Linked DNA regions of Homo sapiens: regions 1, 2 and 4 are each linked to region 3. Evidence: fine-mapped expression QTL. A gene starts in region 3. Each other region holds a variant in brackets. All regions are shown on one strand. Distances are from middle to middle.

What was found.
Region 1: its variant is fine-mapped to the expression of DSTN in whole blood (TOPMed, PIP above 0.99).
Region 2: its variant is fine-mapped to the expression of DSTN in whole blood (INTERVAL, PIP 0.92).
Region 4: its variant is fine-mapped to the expression of DSTN in whole blood (TOPMed, PIP above 0.99). The same link has a PIP of 0.9 or more in blood mononuclear cells.

The regions. Positions count from the first base shown.
Region 1 is chr20:17,645,117-17,650,831 of GRCh38, forward strand. The region is part of intron 3 of RRBP1 (ribosome binding protein 1); the gene reads right to left. Among named protein-coding and RNA genes, the nearest start is that of RRBP1, 34 kb to the right of the region's middle. RefSeq lists enhancers at 3,110-3,199, 3,264-3,967 and silencers at 3,380-3,469, 4,119-4,248. The variant G/A (reference allele first, on the strand shown) is at 3,401.
Region 2 is chr20:17,520,456-17,526,170 of GRCh38, forward strand. BFSP1 (beaded filament structural protein 1) reads right to left here. Exons shown (of 8, transcript NM_001195.5): 2 at 4,393-4,453. Among named protein-coding and RNA genes, the nearest start is that of BFSP1, 8.1 kb to the right of the region's middle. The variant G/A (reference allele first, on the strand shown) is at 2,905.
Region 3 is chr20:17,567,167-17,572,881 of GRCh38, forward strand. It overlaps DSTN (destrin, actin depolymerizing factor), which reads left to right and starts at 2,909. Exons shown (of 4, transcript NM_006870.4): 1 at 2,909-3,045. The coding sequence starts at 3,043. It also overlaps a transcript of BFSP1 not described here. RefSeq lists an enhancer at 1,872-2,439 and silencers at 2,850-3,039, 3,060-3,349.
Region 4 is chr20:17,502,269-17,507,983 of GRCh38, forward strand. All of the region lies in intron 5 of BFSP1 (beaded filament structural protein 1), which reads right to left. Among named protein-coding and RNA genes, the nearest start is that of BFSP1, 26 kb to the right of the region's middle. RefSeq lists an enhancer at 2,244-2,767. The variant A/T (reference allele first, on the strand shown) is at 3,279.

The DNA of each region.
Region 1 (5,715 bases), 78 kb after region 3:
CTCTCTCCTTAAAGACCACCCTTCCAGGCCCCACGGCCCCTACTGCACTGCTGGGTGGGGAAACATCTGGATAAGGCAGCTGGAGGGCACGCGCTCTAGGACGCCGCTTCCTGCACAGGGGCAGCATGGCCACATGCTCACCCGCCGCAGGCTCAGTCCACAGAGTGCTCCCGAGAGTGTTCTCGGAGCGGCATTCTCATAAATCTTTATTAAAACTTTCTAACGTAATTCCATTCTATTAGATATTTTAACAGAAAAATAAAAACTTGCAACACGCGAAACAAACGCAAAGCTGCGTACAGCAAAATGTTAACGCTCTCCTCTGCCACCTCTCATGGCCCCCCAGAAACTTCCACAGCCTTTGCCACACTCATACAAACACTACCTTTTATACTGTTTTTAGAGAGCTATAACTTTACAAATCATTTTTCATTAAATCTTTTAGGTAAAAACTCTGCTGTCTCAATTGTCCCCAAATCAAGGGCAGCACAACTGAAAGAAAAAAGGAAAGCCCTCAGAAGCAGAGGCAGGATTTCTGGGCCTCCAGATGAGTTGCATTTAAATAACGTACTAACGGGAGCCTAAGGCGTGCCCAGCACATCACTTAGGGCTCCAGCAAATACTCGAAGATACCAGTAATCTTCCGAATTGTGAAATCTTAACGCACTAAACTAAGTCTCTCAGACTCAACACCTAGTCTGTGAAATCACAGACTTCAAAAGGCCCAGGGTGCAGTGAATGCTGGAAAAGCTCAGCTCCCTGAGGGCTTGCTCCTGCGGCTAACGCTTTGCCCATCTTGGTGGGTATGAAATACCAGGAAGGGACAGGCCAGGAGGCCTGGGGAGTGACCAGGGAGCAGGAGACCCAAGAGTAGAGACGCAGGCCAGTGTCTCACTTTGATGGATAATCCAGACCTCTGTCTGGCAGGGGACACAGCAACACCCCAGGGGCCAGGCCCTGCAGGAATGGGACAGGTACTGTGACAAATAACCACACAGGCCTGGGCTCAGGGGGGTGGCCTCTCCTGAGCTGGGTGGTCCTGGGCACGGCACTTCACCTCCAGGTGATAGCTGCAATGGGGGAATCTGAGCCAGAACCCTCAAAGCCACAGGCCTGCCCAAGAGCCTGGAAACGAGATTTTTAAGTGCTATCTTCTCATCTTTACTGCTGACAGCTAACTCAATAAAAAACAAATAAATGAATGAAACCACTGTACAGATGAACAAACACATCCGTGGGCCACGTCCAGTCTGCAGGTCACCTCTGTCCTTGGGCAGTGGGGCACCAAGGTCAGAGCAAGGCCTCTGGGACCAGGTGGCCTGGAGTCGAATCCCAGCTCAGCTCCTTCCCACCTTTGTCCTTGGACAAGTGGCTTAACCTTCCTTTGCTTCTGTTTCCTTGCCTACAAAACGGGGATGATCATTGTTCCCCTCACAGCGTGGCTGAAAAGAGTAAGTTGCAACGTGCTTGGAACCATGCCTGGCGCAGGGTAACGCACAGCAAAATAAATCAGCATGGCCGGCCTTCAAGCAGCTCACAGCAGCTCAGATAACGCACCTCACACCCCAAATTTCAAAATGACTCTCCCTTCTGCGACCACACTGGGAGGCTCAGGCACCTAAAATTAAACTCATCTGGCAAAGAGGCACTTAGTGTTCTCTCTCACTGTCAACTGTGGCGTCCTTGGATGAGGCTTTTCTCTCTGTATAATTTCCAGGATCCCCCATGGCCAGGGCTCAGGCATAGAAGGAGGATCTCAGCCCTAAGTGGCCTCATGAGACTCAGCGGCCAGCCCCCCACATCAGCTGCTGGAGCACCCCTGCACTGTGCACACCTGGCTCTCTCAGTCCACGGGGAGGGTATCAGAACCACTCCAGGAACTGCCGCCTGAGCCCTGGCAGCAGCTGGTGGTTAATAGGAGGGGATTATCGCCTTGGCCCTGGGATGGGCCCCACAAAAGGCTCCGGCTCAGCTCCAGCTGCTGCTACAGGTGCCCAGCAGCCCTGATCAGGGCAGGCAGGGCCAGGTGGTCTCTAGACACAAAGTATGTACCACCTGCATACCCAGCAGTTCGTAAATTGCTGGGCCTGGAAAGTTAAGTTATAGGTTGGGCTGTGGCCAACAGAGGCAGAGGACACAGGGCCATAAGGCAGAAGAGTGACACAAGGGGGACCTGGAGAACAATTGTGGCAGCAATGCCGAGAAAGGCTTTAAGGCATTGGGCCAAGCATAGCTGGGTAAGGACACGGTGAGGGGCTTTGGGCCCTAGCGTGTCAGACTTGCACCCGAGGTTGGACTAGGTCCAAGTCTTCATAGGCCCTGGGAATCTGGATTTTATTCTGTAGGCAACAAGCGATGCCTAGGAAGGAGCGTTTGAATTTGAGAAAAAGATTTCAGGATGCCCAGGGGGATGCGGCTGGAAGCAGGCAGACCAGCTGGCCTGGACCCTGGTCCTAAGAGCCTATCCCCGCTGGGTCCTAAGAGCCCAGGACCAGGATCTGGGCCCGAGTATTCAGGAAGCTGAGCTGGTGGGAGAGAGGCCCAGGTGTCAACCCAGGGACTCTGGCAATGGAACCTGAAACAGCATGGACTTGAGGGCTTGGGGAAGAACTCCAGTGGCAAAAACTCTCATTTCCTAAGAGATTGTCCAGATCAGTTCTGAGGGTGCCTCCCTCAGACACACACATGTAGTCTGAATAGCTGCTGCCTCCGGGCCTGCACGGGGTGACTCCAGACAGTGCAGACCAAGGCACCCAGCATGGCTGCCCAAGCCAGATCGCAATCTTGGCGTGCCTTCCACGCCCTGTAGTCCCCAGTCACCCGACCCAAACTCAGGTCTGCTGTAAGAAGGTGAAGACCCTGGGGCCCCAGGAAAGGGCTCCCACATGCCTCCTGGAAGCCCAGCACCACGCAAGCAGTCATCAGCCTCTGCAGACCAAGATTCAGAGGCTGAGGACAAGCTCCCCATTCCTGCTGACCCAAAGCCAAGGGCATCTCTGTCTCTCTCAACCTGAGGAGCCGGCTCCCTTCAGGGTCCCACCCCGAGGTGGGACGCAAGACGCTCTCTAGGGAGGAGCTCCGGCCAACATCACTGCTGGCCTCTAACTGCTCGTTCTTGGACTGTGGCCGTGAAGGCTCCTCCTGAGCCTGTGGGGGAAGTGAGCTTTATGAGACCCTGGAGGAAATGAAGATCTACCAAATGCTCCTGGAGGCAAACTGCGACTCCTGCTCTCACTCATTGCTCATCTGCCCACAGCTGAGGCAGGCCCTGGGCAGTGCACAAACAGTGGACTCCAGGCCCAGCTCAGGCCACAGAGCCCGGCCTTGCCCAAGCGCTGCTCAGCGCTCCTGACAGGAAGCAGGCCAAGGAGGCGCAGCTGCACTTGACCCCAAATGCCAC[G/A]AACGGTCACATCCGCAGCTTTAAGGGCAATGGAGCTCAGTACAAATAATGTCAAGAACAACCCAATTCAGGGCCTTTCAATCAGTCCTTTTCCTTTAGTTGGAGAAAAACGTAATCGGCTACAAACTTGGGGACTGGTATATTTAATGGTATCTAATGGAATTTAAAATATCCTATAGATTGAAGAACTGTTTTCCTCTTTAAAGTTTTGTTTTTTCCTCCAAATTTCAACAAAACCAATTTTATACCTGGAGTTAAAAAAAACCCACATCACAATATTTTTAAAAGAACGACAATTCCTGGAGGACCTCTGGGCAAGGCCCTTCCCAAGGCACACAGGCTGGCCCAAGGAGAATACAGTTTAAACAGCAATTAGGACTCTACCTAATGCCTGCAGAAAACGGCAGGGGATTTTTAATCCCAGGCTGTCTGACCACAGCCGTCTGGGGGCAGTGACCGGAGTCCCAGCCTCAACACGTTTTCAAGTGGCTGAAAAGAGATTTCTGGAAGAGTGTCATCTAGCAGCTTCTCACACTGATACTTGGCTCGCTTCCCTAGGGGATGTTTTTGTTCTTCTTTAAAAAAAGAAGAAGAAAAGAAAAAGTTGGGTTTGAAGAACTTCCACAGAAAGTGAATAAAGGGTCATAAGCCCCAGAGAGTTTTCTTCAGAGCTTCAGACCCTGAGAAACTGAGTTAGGTTCAAAAGAAAAAGTATCTGACTTGATCTCCGTGTACACCTCTCTGTGCAACTGCCGGCGAGAAGGGCACAGGGGCACCTGCCGGGCAGGGCGGGGGCCTCGGGAGGGGCTGCCCACACCGGCCGCTCTGCCATCTGCTGGTCATGTGCATGACTTCTGGGAAGTCTGAGCTTTGCTTTCTGCTTCTGTCAAACAGGTAAAAATTCAAATCCACCTTAGAGAATTGCACGAGGGATAAAGGCATGGAAACCAGCCTCCTAAACTGCACATCTGAACAAACACCTGGCTGGGGAGAGCAGTGGCGTCAGACCTGCTGTGCTAAGCAGCGCTGGGTTTGGAGCAAAGCAGGCTACACATGGGGAGGACAGGCGTGGGTGGGTGGGTGGGTGAGGAGCTGGGAGCAAGGGGTGTTCCCATCACGAAGTCAAATTGTTTAAGGGCCCTGCTACCCTAGACACCTTGAATACCGTTTCCTGGGGGCTTGACAACTCTTCCCCATACCCCCTGACCTGTGACCCCAGCCCCATTAGATTGCAGAACACGACTTGGGATTTTAGGTTACATTTCCTATTGTAGGGGTAGAATGGGGGCTCAGCGAGACTGCACACGACACAGAGCTCACAGGCCCCCTCCCACCACGGCACTGCCAGGCTCCAGAATGTGGGAACTGCCTTTAACTTCCCACCTTACCTCAGTTCATGAATGCCTCCCAGATGCCTGTGTGCTAGGGCTGGGACACGCACTGGCCTCCTTCTGGAGGCCTCAGAAGAGCTGGCACTACCTTTCCTCATTCCAGACCCCAAAAGGAGCAACGTGTTCCTTGCTGCTCCTCAGAGGACACAGGGCTGCCTCAAAACACCCAGAAGGATGAGAGTTCCATCAGCTTTGGTATAATGAGGGCCTGTTTATTTGACTTAGAGACACATAATGGAGTTGTTTCTTCTCCATAAAAAAAAAAAAGTTATAGAAAAACTGGAAAATGCAGAAGGGTGAAAGGAAGATACTAACATTTACCCATAATCCTACCTCCCAAAGGTGGCCTCTTTTTCCCACATGGACTTATCTGACAACGTGGCAAGAATGGGCCTCTGAAATGCCTGTTTCTGAGTGTTTGCCACCTCATGGAGGTTGGGTGGGTTCTCCTGGGCCATGACACAATGGTCTCTCTGGCCACAGAGTAAAACTGGCTTGCATCAGCAGGCTGGGGAAAGAGGGCCCCGCAGAAAGCAGGCCCACAGCCAAGACAGAAGTGCCATGTCCCCAGGGTTACCCACCCCCGTCCATTAGGCAGAAAGGTCACAGGTCCTTGGGTGAGCTCCAGACTCCCCAAGAGTGCAACAAGTACCCTGCATCCCCGCATCCCCTGAGTGACGTGCTAGCAGAGGTAATGAGGAAACACCTGTTTCCAACCAGCAGCAACAATGAGTGAAGCAAGCTCCAGTTAAAAGTACACTGTTCTGGAGCTCATGCTAACTGTGGGGTCTTCAGAATGTACATATGTACTTCCTCAGTCTACGCCCACACTGTAGGATCCAGACTTGATTCCAGGTGCTGGGTGGGACAGCTCTCCTGCCAGTGTAACACCCAGATGGTGATTAGTACAAGATCAGGGCAGCC
Region 2 (5,715 bases), 47 kb before region 3:
AGAATGGGTATTTAAGTTCATTAAGAGTTCTAGTTAGCTGGAATTTAATTAAAAAACACTTTTCCTTCAACTCTGGATGTCAAAAACCTTTCCAAAAATGTTATGGCTGTTCTTCCAGGTGCTAATGTTGGCCTGGAGGGCACTGGACAAATTCTACATCTCTCCACCCTCTCTCTTGCCTCTGCCTCAGTCTCCTCAACTTTGCTGTCTCTCCCTTTGCATTCATCCTGACTCTTCCTCCACTCCTCTTGCCTCTCCACCCCCAGACTCCTCCTCTTCCTTCCCAGTTTCCTCTCCTTCTCTTCTCCGGAAGTTCATTTCCGGGCTCAGAGGAATTCTTGGCATACAAAGGCATAGCCCTGAAGGTAGGGCTTCATGCCTGCACCATTTTATCCCCTAAACTCCCTGGCCTCTTGCTGCTTTCCACAGGCACGTTTAAGAGACACATGAATTACATGAAAAAGTATATATGTCAGCCTTTAAATATTTTTAAAATTGTTTTTAAGTGAAAGCATTTGACTAGAAACCACATCATTTTAAAATTCTGGGAATTTTAAAGAGAAAAGGAGAGGGAGATTTTAAAGTCTGCTGCTTACAGTTTCCTCAAGATAAGCAAATCAGGCATCATAGCAGACCAGTAACTTCATACGTATATATTTGGTGACCATGAGATCTAGAAGTTAGCAAACCCAAATATTTTAAAGTCACCTGGAATTCCTACTACATCAAAAGGCTGAGAAGTTGAATAACTTTGGCCATAGGTTGTAGGTAACGTGTTGAGGAGTTTACTTCACTTCTAAGTGCACAGCAAAGAGTGGCCTACTATAATTTATCTGGCTGATAAAACTACAGGAGCTCTTTCCGTAGGCTTGATTACACGGGCAGCATGAAGAAATGCATGGTGGTTTTGTGAAGGCAGGGGCCATCAGTCCTTTCACATACACTGCAATATCCTCCAAGTAGGATGCAAAGACTGGATCAGTGATGTCCCACGGCCACACCCAGGGATGAATCCCTTCCACAAGTCAGACCAAAGGAAATGGCCACTGAGACTGAGCTAAAACCTCGTTGATCTGATGTAAGAAAATACCCAAAACCTGCAGGCCAAAATCACTCACACGACCAGCTGATGCGATGTGAATTTTAGCCTCTTTCATGTCATCTGATGATCTCAGCAGAGAACAAAAAGGTCCAGTGTTCACCTGGCCCTGCCCTTGAGGGACTATTTGGGTTCTCCAGAAGTGGACCCCAAGGCAAAGACTGGGTACCTGTGGCTTATCTGGGAGGTGATCCCAGGAAGCACAGGTAAGGGAGGCTAGTGAGCCAGAGAAGGAAACAAAACCAATGAAGGAATGTGACGAGCAGGTTGCCATTGTAGACAGCTCAGTACGGCTGGGGTCCCTCTGAGGGACCATGTGGAATGTGGCTCTGAACCATCACTATGAGGGGTGGGGAACTTATCCACCTATCCCAGTCCACAGCAACTGAGGGTTGTTCCTGGGGTGTTAACACCCAGCGCTTCTGGACTATACTGATGTGGGCCATGCATGTTCCCAGAGCCCGAGATGCAGGCAGTGATCAGGGTGTTCAGCGTGTCTGAGTGACCACTGGCATGGCCCAAGGTGTGTGGACAGGACACCAACATCAAGGTCCATGGGGCCACCTATAGCCGAGAACTCTCTGGCTTCGTGTCTGGCCTCTGAGTAATACCGGTTCCCTGACTATTCTTTGGAGGTAGAGAATGAACCACAAATACAAAAGACCCCAACTCCTGTCTACACTTACCACGGCTGAGCTGCGAGGCTCTGAAGTCATTTAACCTCATCAAGGGTGAGTTTCCTCACTGGCCCAGAGAAGGATTTGGAATAGGTCATTTCTGAGAATAAAACCTGCCCCCCCAATAACCACGGGCTGTTCTGAGGCTCCCACAGGCTTGCACAAGGCCCTCCCCAGCGTCCTGCATCTGCCTGCTGTGTTTATGATTTCTACTATTATCCAAGGACCACCTGCATCTTATTCACTCTGTATTTGTCTTTAAAGGTACTCATTCTTACGTAGGTTTATTTGGAAAGGAATATTTTATGTCATCCGCTGTAAATAACAGGTAATCATAAAAAATTCACAACTATTAAATATCACTCCTCCATGCACTTTCTAAAGTCACCTCCCATTTCAACAGGGTTCTGCACCCACACTGTGGAGAAAACCAAGCTGGTGTCTGTCACATCAAGTGCTCTGTAGTAATAACAGTGATCAGGGATTCAGCACCACCAGGTGATGGGCAAGTCATATACATTATTACATCATTTAGTTCTCACTAGGCACTTTCACTCCTATGGTGGGTGGGGAGTATTGTGATTCCATTTCACAGATGAAAAAACCGAGGCTCAGAGGGACAAGGCAATTGGCCCACAGTCTCACAGATGCTCAGCTGTAGCAGGAGGTTCCTAGTCACAGGCTACACTCCTCGCTGGGGCTCTGCAGCTCACCTGCGGGCAGTACTGTCTTACTTGGACCCAGGGGCCAGTCATGCTAATTGCCTGTGCTGGTCTCACCCACATTCTTGGTAGCATCTTTCCCCAGAACCTTCATAATATTCTTACAGGGCTGATACTTCAAATGTCCACACTCTATGTCACAATATACATGAAGGTGTATTATGCGATGCCTTTTCCTTATTTTTCGTTATCTATGTTGCCTTATTTTTTCTACTGAGAATATGGATTGCTTTTGTAAAAAGAGAAAAACAACAGAAAGTTTAAGCTTGTTTTTTAAATTCACTGTCATTTTCCATCAAGGGTAAAAGAGGAACCCCATTCTTTCTCCCCTTTATTTGAAGAGTACCCAGGATGGCACTGCGTGAGTGACAAGTGAGGACAGATGCTCACAAAGCAACATGTGGAA[G/A]TGTTGGGGAGAGGGCCTCGGAGGGCCTGAGGGGTGCTGTGAAGGGTGCTGGGTCCCCGTGTCTGAAGGCCATGTTCTGGCAGTCTGAGGTTGCACAAAACAGAAGAATGGGGATGAGCTACAGGTGTCAGCAGAATAGCAGAGTGATGTCAGACACTAATAAGGCCCAACTCCCAGCTCAGATGTCCAACAGGCTCGAGGCCATCGTTTTCCAAGCCAACTATTGAGCGTGTGTCCTCAGGGCCTTCCTGAAGTGCATTCTCACTGCCATCTCTGTGTTTCTATCTAGGGTGCCCAAGTGTCCTACTAGCTGTCCTGAGAGTCCCAGCCTGCATTGACTGACCTGTGTTATTACAAACTGCACCCTCTTTTGCACACTGTCCTGGTTTGAACATATCATACGTGCTCACGCGCAGAGGGGCAGGTAACATAGACAAAGCAAAATTGGGTTTCCCCTAGATTCTAGTTCTGATTTTCCCCTCAACCAGCAGAGTAATCCTAGACAGCAAAGGCTGGACAAAGTGAAGGGATGGCAAACATCCGGCGCTAACCCTGACTGTCCAAAGAGGCTGCTTGGAGTTCCATGTGGCAAAGAAGCCTAAAGCATACCTGGGCATGGCAGGGAAGAGTCTGCGGTTTTGTCAGCAATTTTGATGAGTTGTAGGCATGGAAGGGGCGGGGAAGGGCAGCCCATGTGCCCTAATCAAGCAGCCTTTCCACTAAATAGTCTCCATGGGTCGTTCTGCTCTGACATTGGAGCTCAAAAACGATCAGAAAAGGGCCATGCTTAAAGCTATGTGCCATCCCTGGTTCTGTACAACCCTGGTGGTCCAGAATCATTCTGCTTTTTGGTGGTGGGATTCTCCCAGCAAAAGCAGAAAATCCAATCAGTTAGTTAGAATCATGATGAAGAATCCCAAGAAGGAAATCACCACTGTTCTGTAAAGAGCAACTCCACATAACCCTGCAGGAAAGTCAAGTGGCTAAGAACCCCTGGCATCTCCCCTGGGGCTATTGGTCACGCTATAAGAGGGAACTCTAGAGGAAATAGAAATTTCTTCCTCTGTTATCTTGAGACTTCTGTGGAGCCGCAATCTCAAAACTCTTAGCCAATAGGACAGAGGTATCACTGTGTCCAAATAACCACTGCCCAAAGCAAGGTCCTTCCTAAATTTGGTGTTGGGCATCAGTATGTCTGACAAGTAAAACAGCAGCTTGTCACTGTAACGCCGGCAGGTTTTGCTAGCCTAGCATAACCAACAAGCTTCATAGTCTGTGTTTCTCTCGTGAGAGAGGGGTGTGTGTATGGGTGTGTGAGTTCACTCATAAAGACTCAATTGAAATTAACAAGTCAAGAGACAGAGTGACTGCAAAAGAAGTAGTGACCGCCAAAGTAACACAAAGAGGAAGCCTGTAAAACCTGCACTTCCACCATTCCATTCAACACTGTAATTAAGCTACGTAAACCCAAGGATGTGTTCCGCTCACCTTGTTAAGCCGTTCAAGCATTTCTTTTAGCAGGAGTTGACATTCGCACTCATTTTCATACCTGCAAATTGGACACATAAGTGAGAGTTGGGTAACTACCATGCTTTCACATGTATGGATCACATAATCAGCATTAAATTCAACCTGGGTACGATGCCCTCTCCTTTAAGGAGAGGGTCTTAATTTTAAAGTAGTAGCTAACGAATGCTGCATTTCCTAGCTGACTGCCTCCCAATCAGAAAGTGGTACCATTTGCACACCGCGTGGGGTAACCAGGGGCAGTTAGCGGAATAGGAGTCTCCCAGCCCGAAGGCACCAACCCCAGCCCCTACAGCCTTATTCCCAGCCACCCCAAGGATGAGGGAATTATATCCTAGCCTATCTATAACCCAAGTGCAGCAGTGGCAGAGATGGGAGACTGCCCTGCACAATCTACACCACCATTAACCTGACCGTACTTGGATTTCCTATAGTATTTTATTTGCTGACACATGTAATTTGTCAGTTTTTCTGGATTATGTCATTTAATCCTTACATCACCCCAGAAGAAAGCAGTTATTGTTAGTGCTGCATTAAAGATGAGGAAACTCAGGCAGATGCTCCGCACACTTTTCCCTCCTCCCAGCAGCATCACTCCCCACACAGCGATGGCCTCCTCTGGGCAAATGGGTGGGGCAGGCTGGACGTGCCAGGGAGTCAGGGCCTCTGGGAGCAGCCCACAAACTCTGAATGAGGCAAATTGGAGCATAAGTACCCCAGCTCCTTTTCTGCTCGGCTGGGACAACTGAGGCACGTCCCTCTGGGGGAATTTTAACCCTAAAGAGAGAAGATTCCTTCCTAAATGACCCCTCCCCTTGTTCCCTATAAGGTGACCCCCAAATGCCCATTCTTGCTGTCTTCAGGAGTTAGAGCCCTTGATGCTTGGCAAGCACAGGACTGCCTAGAAGGGAGACTACATTTTCCAGCATTCCTTGCAGCCAGGTGTGGCCATGTGACTAAGTCCTGACCAATGGGATGGAAGCATAAGTCTGCATGGCAGCTTCCAGATACCTTTAGTTAAGTAATGGTGTATGTGTGCCCTTTGCTTCTCATTTTCCATCCCTCCCTCCATCCTGCAGCCAGAAACATGAATGCTGCCTTCCTGAAGGCCACACAGAACCTTCTGTGTCCCAAATACTGTACAGTATCATACTAAACTGCTTAACCAGACCTTACACAAGTGAGAAACATTTTGGATAAGCCAATGACATTTTGGGTAAGCCAGTATCACTTTTTCTGTTTTTTTCTGTATGGCGGGGGGGGGGGGGGGGGGGCTGGTAAAAT
Region 3 (5,715 bases):
TTAAATGCAGAGGCTGAAGTTCAGTGGGACCTAAAAAAAATGGGGGCTCATCTTAAGTTATGATAAACTGATATATAAGTTTGATAAATTGTAAAACATCTTCAGATACTGGTTCACTTATTCAATACTTATTAAACACCTACTATGTATCAGGGGCTATGCCAGTTCATACATACGCATCTTAAATACCCCATGACCTCAAGGAACTCCCAGCTATCTGGTAGTAATGGAAAATGCACATAAATAATTACAGAGCTACAGTAATTGTAGGGAAAAAACCATGAAACCTCCTAACTCAAAGTATAGCATCTGCATCTCCTGGGGCCATCTAAGACTCCACCCCTCAACCCCGGAATCTGCAGTTTAACAAGGATCTCAGGTGATTTGGATCTTTATTAAGATTTGAGAGGTGGCCGGGCGCTCGGTGTCTAAGGCCTGTAATCTCAGCACTTTGGGAGGCCAAGGTGGCCAGATCACCTGAGGTCGGGAGTTCAAGACCAGCCTGACCAACACGGAGAAACCTTATCTCTACTAAAAATACAAAATTAGCCGGGTGTGGTGGCGCATGCCTGTAATCCCAGCTACTCGGGAGGTTGAGGCAGGAGAATCGCTTGAACCCGAGAGGCGGAGGTTGCAGTGACCCGAGATCGCACCATTGCACTACAGTCTGGGCAACAAGAGTGAAACTCAGTCTCAAAAAAAAAAAAAAAAGATTTGAGAAGTGATGAACTCTGGGATTATAGAAGGAACTAGGGGGGTGAAGGAGTTGTAAGGGGTACGGGGCACGAAAAAAAAAAAAAGAAGGAACTACTATTGATCCTTGGGAAGTGGTAAGAGAAGTCTTCAGATGCGAAGGGTGATAGGAACATCCCAGGCTGAAAAAATAAGCAGGCCCATGATCAAGGTAGTTAGAACTAGTAAGAGGTGTTCTGGAATGAGAAGTTTCGTCTGGGAGGGGCAGTGGGCACTTAGGAAGATATGGGAGATAGGGCAGAAAAAGTAGGCTGAGGCCAGAGGCAGACGGGCCAGACTGACCTGCTGAGGGTTATGGAGGAAGCCACAGCAAATTTTAAGCAAGAATGTAACAAGACCAGTCTTATGTTTGGACCTAACTCTGGTGGCAGAGTGGAGGACGAAATGCAGGAGAGGCTGGAGCAAGCAGGCAGGCATGTATCCTTAAATGAGCACCATTCACTTTTGGACTAGAAAGGAAGTCTGAATATTAAGAAGTGTAAGGGCCACAGGGTCCTAGGCAGGCAGAAAAGCAAAGGGTTCCAGCTGCAGGAGGATACAGGGGGGTTCCTTCTCAGTTCAGGAGTGTGGTCTCGGACTGGCATCTTCAGCATCACCTAGGAGTTGTTAGAAATGCCCATTCTCAAGCATCATCTTAGAAGCAGTGAGGGAACCTTGGGGATGGGGCACACAAATCTAGCTTTGAACAACTTTTCCAGGTGATTCTGATGCATGCTAAAGAACCACTGCTCTAGCCCGCCAAAAATCATGTCTCAGGTGGTAAAGGCTTAGAACTGCACAACTTACTGTCTTTTTTAAAAAGAACGAGGGTAATGAGAAATGGGTTCCTATGTTGAGTGGGGCAGAACAAAAGCCACATACAACCTAGATTTTACGTAGTGCCGGAAAAAAAAATACTGACCATCTTGTCCAAAAGTCTCATATTTGGAGAATTAAAATAGTTTTGGTCGAGGCCATGATGTTCTCGGTAACCTAAATTAATTTATAAAATTCTTTGTTCCCTTTATTTCCCACAAAAACACCCGCAGCAAAAACGCTGGGATTCATCTGGGCCCTCTGAAAACCGTGTTTCCGACGCAACCGCCCATTAGAAAAACACAATTCCAAATTAAAAACCCGGAGAACTGAGCGGCGGGGCTGGCGCCACCGTCCCGGGACAGCGCGGCCTTTCCCAGCCACACCCCTGCGCGCCGCCGGCCTCCTTCCCCGGCAGTTCCCAAAGATAAATAAATGCTCCTTGTTTTTCCAGACCTGAAATTAACGGTGACTCACAGAGCACTCTGCATGGCCACGGTCGCCTCGGGAAGGAGGAAAAATGTGCAGACTTTTTTCCCCTCACGCGAGGGCAGGACAAGCCAGACTGGGCCAATCAGGGGAGGGCGGCGGGAATCGCACCAAAGTAGGTAAAAAATGCGGGAGGCGTCCCCGCTGCCGCGGCCCGCGACTCCGCTCCCGTGGGTCCTCCCCCAGTGCGTTCCCCCTCCTCGGGCCCTGCCCTCCCAACCCCCAACATCTCTCTCCTTCCACCACTGTGTCCCTCTCCCTCACCTCTCCCCTTGCCCCCACCTCCCCCACTAAGTGCCCCCTCGCCCCTCCCCCCACATCCCCCTCCTCTCCCCACACTGTCCCCTCTCCCTCACCTCTTCCCTCCCCTCTCCATCCTCCTCCTCCCCCAACTATGTGCCCCTCGCCTCTCCCCTCCAAATCCCCCTCCTTCCCACACTCTGTACCCCTCTCCCCCGGCTCTCCCCTCCTTTTCCCCTCCACGGCCTCGCCCCGCCCCAGCGGCAGGCACACCTGGCCAGGTGGCTGCCTCCCCGCGCGGGCCATGCCTGCACAGTGGGTGGGGCGTCAGGTGGCCCCGCCGAGGAGGCGAAGGAAGGCCACCCCTCCCCCATCATCTTTTGCCCGCCCCTCGCCAGCAGGAGCCAGCCCAGTCCGCCTTCTAGCCTCCTGCAGACCAGAGAGGACGCACCCCCACCCCTAAACACTTTCTGGTGAGGCGGACCCTGCCCCGCAGCCTTCAGCAGATGAGGGAAGCTCCCCTCCGAGACTCTGGATAGCCGCCGGGGGGGCGTTGCCTGGCCGGCTGGTTGCGTAGCAACGGCAGGCGGTGCGTGACGTGCGCAGCCGCGTTCCGTCCTGAGGCGCGCCCGCCCCGGGGTAAGCTCGCGCCGCCGCGTCAGCTCAGCGCTGGGTCTCTCGGTCCCGCAGCCGTGAGGAGGACGGTCTGCATACTCGCTGCCCGCCGGCTCCCTCCCCCGCGTCCCTGCGACCGCCGCGGCGAAGATGGTGAGTAGGAGGGAGGCCGAGGCGTGGGCCGAGGCGGCCGGGAGCAGTGTGTCTCTGGGGCGCCGCGGAGTCGGGGCTAAGGGGGTGAGCCGTGCCTCAGCCCGGGGAGGGACCCGGTCCGGCTGCAGTGTCCGGGCTGCGGGTGAGGGGGGGTCTCTGGGCCTCCGTCTCCCGCCGTCCTGGCTGGGCCCCCGCGCCCCGGGGTGGATCCGCGGCTGTTGCGCAGCTCCCAGCTGGGGCGAGGCCGCCGCCCTGAGCGTGGCCTCTGCGGGTGTCTCCAGACCCGGCCTTGCAACAACTGGCTGGGGTCGAGCGCCCCCACCCGCTCTGTGAAATCCATCCGGGGGTCTGCACACCGAGGCCGGGGAGTGGGGGGCGGGGGGCGTCGGAATCCGGCCACCGTCCTTGTTGGCGTGGGTTTCCCCAGAGCTGGCGCTGAGGCGCTTGGTGACTTGTGCGCGTTCCAGCCCTTGAGGTCTGTCCATCTCAATAAGGAAGATAAAGCCTTTATGGAACAGTCCTAGAGCACGGAATGATCGCTAACGAGCAGGATCCTGGCATGATTTAGAACGGGGTGGCCTTGCAGCTCCTTTGTTTTTTTCTTTTTATCTGGCAATCGGCTTCCAGCAGCACTCTCGTCGTGCTTGTCAAGCTTGGCAGTGTCTGTTTTAACCCTTCCCTGCCCGATCTGTCCGTGTATGGTTAGAATTTTTTTTCTGACCTGTAGACAGTTGGACTCTGCCAGAACTTGGTGCGCAAGGTGTGGGCATGATGCTGGGATGCTGATACAACCAAATTTAAGAGCTTTAAAAACCATTAAAATACTGGAGTCACCAGAAAGTAAACAGGTGCTCATTAGTATATTCTATATGATGGACATTTTGCTTAATTTACATATTTTCCCCCTTTACACTGTCACTCTAATTAGCTATTTAAAAACGTATTCTCAACTGAACTATCAGTTGGAACATTTTGTCGTTTTCGTTAGTGTGCACACACTGTTACCATTTTTGGTCAGTGATTTGCAGGCGTAGCCTTACCAGACTTTGCTAGAAATATTACACTGTAATTGCATCTGTCTAGAAGCAGTTGGTACCAGCTTATCTGCATACAAACTGTTTTCACTGTATAACAGTTTTGGTTTTCTTAAGTTACTACAACTTCCGTGAACATGCAGGCGGCCCCTTAGTGAAAGAAAAGATAAACCGGTAGTTTCTTGATGACTGTAGATATGTATGTAATAGGGATTTGATACTGTTCAGTTTTTGGTTCTTCTTTGGTTTAATGCTGTAAGCTACAAAGTATCAGCATCTTGAGTCTTTTTAATATCTAATTATTAGAAATTTAATAACATTTTAAATGTATATGCTACTTTATACTGAAAGACTTAATCTAGGGGCTTTGAGTTATGGTACGCTTAAGACCATTCACTCTGTGAAAGTGCTTTGAAGCTGACTAGGGTCTGCTCTAGAGACTTCTGATTTGACATTATGCTTTTTTATTGAGTGGCTAATACAGACTTTATTTTTCTGTTTGAAAATAAGAGACCAAACATTTTACCTTTAGTTAAATGCTTAGTTTTAGTTAAAGCTTAACTAAATTCAAGGAAGGAAGGGTCTGTTATATTTCCTGGTTCTTGTGAGGAGTGGGAGAAATAAAAATTAGAAATGAGCGATTTCCAAATACGCTTCAAAATTGTTGGCTTTAGGGAGATCAAGAAGACCTTACAAGTTACTCTTAGAGTTCAGATTATAGACCCCCCATTTTTAAAGGTTATTTTTGTTTTTAGCCTTATGAGCGCAGGAGCATCTTTGTTTAGTTCAGTGATTAGAGAATATTGTGGGTATTATCCCAGAGTCTAGCACTTTGCTTTTAGCTCTTTTGGTTAGATGCTTGGTTCCAAGTTTCTTTTAAGATTAAATTTTAACTACCGATGGGTTTGTTCTAAATTAGCAGAATCACTTCCTTGTACTCACCAAGTCTTTTAGAAGCACCTGAAATAAAGCAGTTTGAAACCAGCTGGGCGCTTCAGGATGAGATTAGATGTTTTCAGATGTCTCCTCCAACAAAAAACAAACAACGTCTGCCTCCACGTGAACCACAATTACAGACCCCAAACAAAACGTGTGTGTGTGTGTACTGGGTGTGCCAGCCTCCTTATACAGAGATTGTTTAGTAGCCCATCATCAAGTTACTAAGGTTATTTGCTCAGTAGTTCTACTGGATATGGATTGAGACATCACACCTAGACTTGCCTAGCTCCTCTTGTAACCAGAGTATCTTTTATGCTTCTTGGAAAGTAAGAGTGTAGTCTTGCCCCTGAAGTAGAGTTAAAAGGTTTGCACGATAATCTAACCCTTAACCTTATCCTAATCTGGACTGTGGTCTCACAGACTGAACTAATTGGCGCAGTATTCAAGTATTCTAATACTTGGTGATTAGCAAAAACACTACAACCCAGTGAAATAGGTTGGGCATGTATTCACATGCCTATTTAACATATGAGAAAACAGATTGTAAAGGATTAATTGACTTGAGACAAATCACCTTTTCCAACTCCAAGTTTTAAAATAATAATTTTGAAACATTTTAAGCAGAAAAGTACACAGAATAACAGATCCTTTTGTACAGGAAAAACAGGGCTATCTTATTGCCATATTTCAGGTTTTT
Region 4 (5,715 bases), 65 kb before region 3:
CAGCCACATAACGAAATACTCAGGACACAGCGTCACTCCATGGGGGTCTTGCCAAGAATGCAGAACCTCCATCTAATCCTGAGAAAACATCAGGGAAACCCAAAAGGAGAGACATGCCACAAAGCCACTGGTCTGGGTTCTTCCAAAGCATCACGGTCATGGAAGACAGAGAAAGACTGGGGACCATCCCAGTATGGGGGAGACAATCAAGACATGACACCTAAATGTGAGTAGGATCTCGACCAGGAAAAAACACGCGTGGAGCAACTGGTGAGATTTTAGTGCAGTCTATTAATGCGACAGGATCACTGTTAATTTCCAGGTTTTTATCATCGGCCCGTGGTTTTGTGGAAGTTGGGTGAGGGGTATATATTGGAAGCTACTGTGCTGTTTTTGCAACTTTTCAAAAATCTAAAATTACTTCTGAATAAAACAAGAGTCCCCTTCCTGTTTCAGCTAGTGTGATCCAGTTTCTGTTTCTCCCAAGAAATCTGGATTCAAACAGTCGCCTGTAATAGCAAATACAAGTCAGACACACTAACGCCTGGTGCAGCCACATCTCACCCACACCAGAGTGTTCAGACACTCCAGGAAACACTTTCAAGGAATATGGGGATTGAAAAGACCCCTTTGAGCCCCAAATCTCAAAGAAGTGTTGGAATTACATGGTGAGGGAAGTGTGTGGGGCTGTAGAGAACATAGAGGGGCCATGTGTTGAGGGATGGGGCGGGAGGGCTCATGAGACAGACTATTCTCACTTTTAATTTTTGAGACAGGCAGGGTCTCACTCTATTGCCCAGGCTGGAGTGCAGTGCTGCCATCAGGACTCCCTGAAGCCTCCACATCCTGGGCTCAAGTGGTCCCCACACCTTTGTCTCCTCAGTAGCTGAGACCACAGGTGAATGCCACCATGCCCAGCCAATTAAAAAAAAATTTTTTTTTGTAGAGACAAGGTCTAATTATGTTGCCTAGGCTGGTCTTGAACTTCTGGGCTGAAGTGATCCTCCCACCTTGGCCTCCCAAAGTACTAGGATTACAGGCGTGAGCCATAGCACCTATAATCTCTCACTTTTCTATGTTTGAAATCTTCCATAATAAAGAGTAAAAGAAAAAATTACATATGAAGAGAATGTACCCCAGATCACTGACCCAAGAGCTCTGGGGTGGCCGTTCCTTTTGGGTGTGGGTTCCCCAGCCCAGAGCGGGGGTAGTGGCTCATGCTGATAAGTCCTAAGCTGGGTCAACTCATCAACCTCACAACAACCTTATCAGGGAAGGGCTGTCATTATTTCCACTTTACAGATGAGGAAACTGGGGCACACTGGCAAAGTGGCTTGCCCATAAATACCACAGCAGGATTCGAATCTACCTGAACAAGGTCTGAAACACCTCCCAGAACCAGGCCACCCTTGCCCTGCACCTCAGCCTCCTCCCTGCTGCAGGCAACAATATGCAAGCACACACGTGCGTGCACACACACACACTCTGTCTCCAGGGCCCCTGCAAACTCCCCATTCCCACACAGCAACAGGCCAACACCAGCCTGTTCTCTCTGAAGACATGGGAAAGTCAGTGTGAGCCATGCAGAGACCTCTCCTTGCAGGTTTTCACTTAGCAAAGTTTTAAACTGTAAATAGAACCACAAAGCATCACAGAATGGGAAATGAGAGCCCAGGAAAGTCACCTGTGATCTTTCTACCCTACAAGTGGAGTGCAATCTTTTTATGTCTCAGGAAGTGGTGATTGTTGTTTTTGTGGTAGTGGTAGGGGGTGGAGGGATGGGGTGTTTTCTTGGGTGTGCATTTGTGTTTGTTTGAAGAAGGCTGCATGTTTTAAAGGCTGGAGATCCTCTGCTGGAACACTGCGGGAGGAGCTCCTGTCCTGGGCGCCCCCACAGCCCCCATCCCCCACATGACCATGAGGCCCAGAGCCCTCCAACTCCGTACTGGTCGCAGATGCTCTACGGGATTCTGCTGAGTCCAGTGAAGTGATGACTTGGTTTATAAAAGTGGACTGATGTCTATACCGATGTGGTTTTTACAGCTCCATAATTTAAACCTTTCATCAGAAGGAAGAGTGTTCAGGAAAACCAGTAAGAGCTCCTGTCTCAGGAGCTCAACAGGAATGGAGATGCCTGTGACGAGAGCCACTGTGGCACGGCGTCCACTGCCACCCAGCACCAGCCTGGCCGAGGAGAATGAGACACGGACCCTCCTCTAGAAGGCCGCAGTCCAGCAGGGGAGGCACGCCCAGGGCATCTCAGAGGAAGAAAGGGGCTTCCAGGAGGAGGCAGGACCGGTCCTGGGAACCGAGGAAGGAAAGGGACTTCCAGAAAGGAGAGAAGGAATGAGCAAAGGGGAGGTCCCAGAAACTGCAGGAGGGGTCAGGAGACGAAGAGAAGAGAGGTTGGCCCAGGGTTCCTCCAACGGTGGGGCCATGTGGCAACCTGAACTTTATCCGGAGCCAGGTGACTGCTGTTTCTGCCTGGACCGTTAGATTGCCTGGTTTATATCTGTCTCCCCACTGGGCTGTGAGCCGCTGAGGGCACGACACAGGCAGGAGCCTGACGCGAGCCCCATCTGGAGGGGTGAGCTCTCACCTCAGTCCTTAGGACCCCAGACACCTTTAGGTGTAAGGTTTTTTTTTTGTTTTTGTTTTTGTTTTTGTTTTGTCTTAAAAAAAAAAAAAAGGAAACTCATTACATACTGTCTTACACAAACTAAACCACTAGATGGTGCTAAGTGACTTTAATGAGAAATGAGACATGGGCGGTTCCCACTTTGCAATTTTAAAAAGTGACTTTCTTTACTTCCCTGTCACAGAAACTCTCAGTCCATGCAATTTAGGGAACTAGAATTACCTGTCCTTTCCTCTCCACCTGTCCGAAGTGCTTCCTCCGGGGCTCTTACGGGTATATGTGCACTTATTTGAAGGAGAGGCTTCCAGCTTCCAGCTCCAAGCCCAGGCACTATTCTCCCATCGTCCGCCCAGCGTCTCCCAGACTGAGCCCGCAGAGCCACGTGGAGGGCTTAAACAAGGCGCACCGGCCCGCCCCAGAGCTCCTGGGTCAGTGGTCTGGGGTGCCTGTGAATCTGCATTTCTGACAAGTTCCCAGGTGGTGCCCCCGCTGCTGGGACGGGGACCTCACCCTGACGACCCCTGCTGTGGAGAGTTCGGGAAGCTTCGGACGCCCTAACCATAGGCGGAACCCGCTGCCACGGCCCTGGTGCTAGCAGACGCTCTCTCTCGGCCCGCCCTCCACCGAGTTCCGGCCACAG[A/T]GCGGGCCCTGCCCGGCGGTGTGCGGCCACATCTTCCTTCAGCTCTAGCTTAGCTGCTACATTGGGAAGCCACTAAAACCTTTAAAACCAGCAAAAACCCAGCCACAAACATTTGAAATGAGGCCCAAGCCTGGGACACAGGGGGACCAGGTGGAACATTCGCCCACTCCCTGGGACCCGCCCTTACCCTGTGGTTCTCAGTGTGGCTCCTGGACCAGCCGCAGCACCATCACAGGGACACCTAGACATGCAGCATCCCGGGCCACACCCCAGACCCACTGAGTCAGGAGCTCCCGGGCGCACCCAGCCACGTCTGGGTTTTCATCAGAGCTAAGGAGGCAGAATTTTGGCCCCCGTGACCTTTTCCCCTTGGTGCTACACCCTTGAATATGTTACATGGCAAAAAGGGACTTTGCAGATATAATTAAAGTTCTTAATCAGTTACCCTTTTTTAAGGAAAGGAGTTTATTCAAGATTATCCCCTAAAAACAGAAGTCAGAGAAACGTGTAAGTCCAAGTCATTGAGATGAGACGCAGGAAGAGGGTTCAGAGTTCGCTGCCGGCTCCGAACGTGGAGGGGCCTGAAGCCAAGGAGCCTGGGCAGCCCTGACAGCCACTCCTGGCCAGCAGCCGGCAAAGAAACAGGGTCCTCACTCCTGCCAAGAACTTGAATGAGACTGGAAGCAAATTCTCCCCTAACAGCCTCTGGACAAGGGCCCAGGCTGGCCAACATCTTTCTTTCTACCTTTTGAGACCCAGAGCAGAGAAACCGATAGGACCCACCCAGACTTCCCACCTACACAACTGCGATGACACGGGTGCTGGTGGTGACTCATCAAGGCAGCAACAGAAAATGGACACAGCCGTGTTTCATCAGCTACATGCTATAGCTTGTTACTGAGTGAGTATAAGCACATCTGTCATTTTATTTAAAATGATTCAGTAATATTTTGATAACTGTTTTAATATAATTAGTTTCTTTTTTTTTTTTTTTGGAAACGGGGTCTCATTCTGTTGCCCAGGCTGGAGTGCAGTGGCTCAGTCTCAGCTCACTGCAGCCTCAACCTCTCCAGGCTCAGGCAGTCCTCCCATGTCAGCTTCCTAAGTAGCTGGAACCACAGGCACGCACCACCACGCCCAGCTAATTTTTGTATTTTTTGTAGAGGTGGGGTTTCGTCATGTGGCCCAGGCTGGTCTCAAATTCCTGGACTCGAGCAGTCCACTCACCTTGCCCTCCCAAAGTGCTGGCATTACAGGCGTGAGCCACCACACCCAGCCTGGTTTCCTTTAAATTATCTGTATTTTATTTTATGCCTTTACCATCATTTTTCTGAGAAGCGGTCTCCATCAGAATGCCACGGGTGGGAGTGGAGGAGGCAGCACAGAAGAGATGTTTGAGACCCTGCTTTAGAGACGAGGGCAGCAGGGAAAAGCCAGGAAGTCCTCCTGCAGCCACTCAGGACAGAAACAGGCGGCCAACCAGCGGTTTCATTTCATGTTCTCAGAAACCAGGTTAATCTGTTGTGAAATTTCTTATTTTGATATTCAACAAATACCTGTACATAAAGAGAGGAACATTCTTTTTGTCCTGGAACTGGAATTTGCCATCTAGGCTGGGCTCCTTCATCTTTCTCAGTATCTCTAGGGCAGTGGTTTTCAACTTTATCACCACCGCCCCAGGAAAAACCACATTTCTCATTGCGAGCCATACACATCAGATAGGTAGGTGTGTGTGTGTGTGTGTGTGTGTGTGTGTGTGTATTTCAACATATCCATATGGATATAGAGAGATAAAACAAGGGCTTCACAAAACAAATCCTCCCTTTCACTTGCTGTACACTCTGTTTTTCTTATTATATTTTAGTCTAGCATTTTGTTGACTTCCTTTTACATGCCAGTCAATTCTACTGAGTTCATTTTACATCCAAAAATGAGTTGTCACTAGCCATTTGGAAAACACTGGTCTCTAGGACCACGACTGGGCTTGTATCCACGTCCCTATTCACATACACAGCACACACACATACACATGACACACACACACCACACACACTTCACATACACATCCCACATATATCACACATACCATGTATATCACACACACACACCCCATGTACACAAACACATACAACCCTTATTCTATCCTGTCAGAGCCTCAGAAGAAACCACACAGGCCCCAGTCACCAGGATGAGGCACATGGTCCCTGAGCCAGGGTTTGTCTCACAAGAAGGAGGAGTTTTAAGTGCCTTACTTGGTTCCTCCTGCTGCGATCGTCAGTTCAGGGGACCACCACAGACCCGGGTTTGCTTTCCAGCAGCCCCTGAGAGCTGCTGCACTGTGAGTTTTGTGTGGTGCGTGCTGGGATGGGAATTAGGATGTGAACTCCAAGGTCCCAAAATGAAATCCTGAGCAGACATGGGGGCACTGGAAATCAAT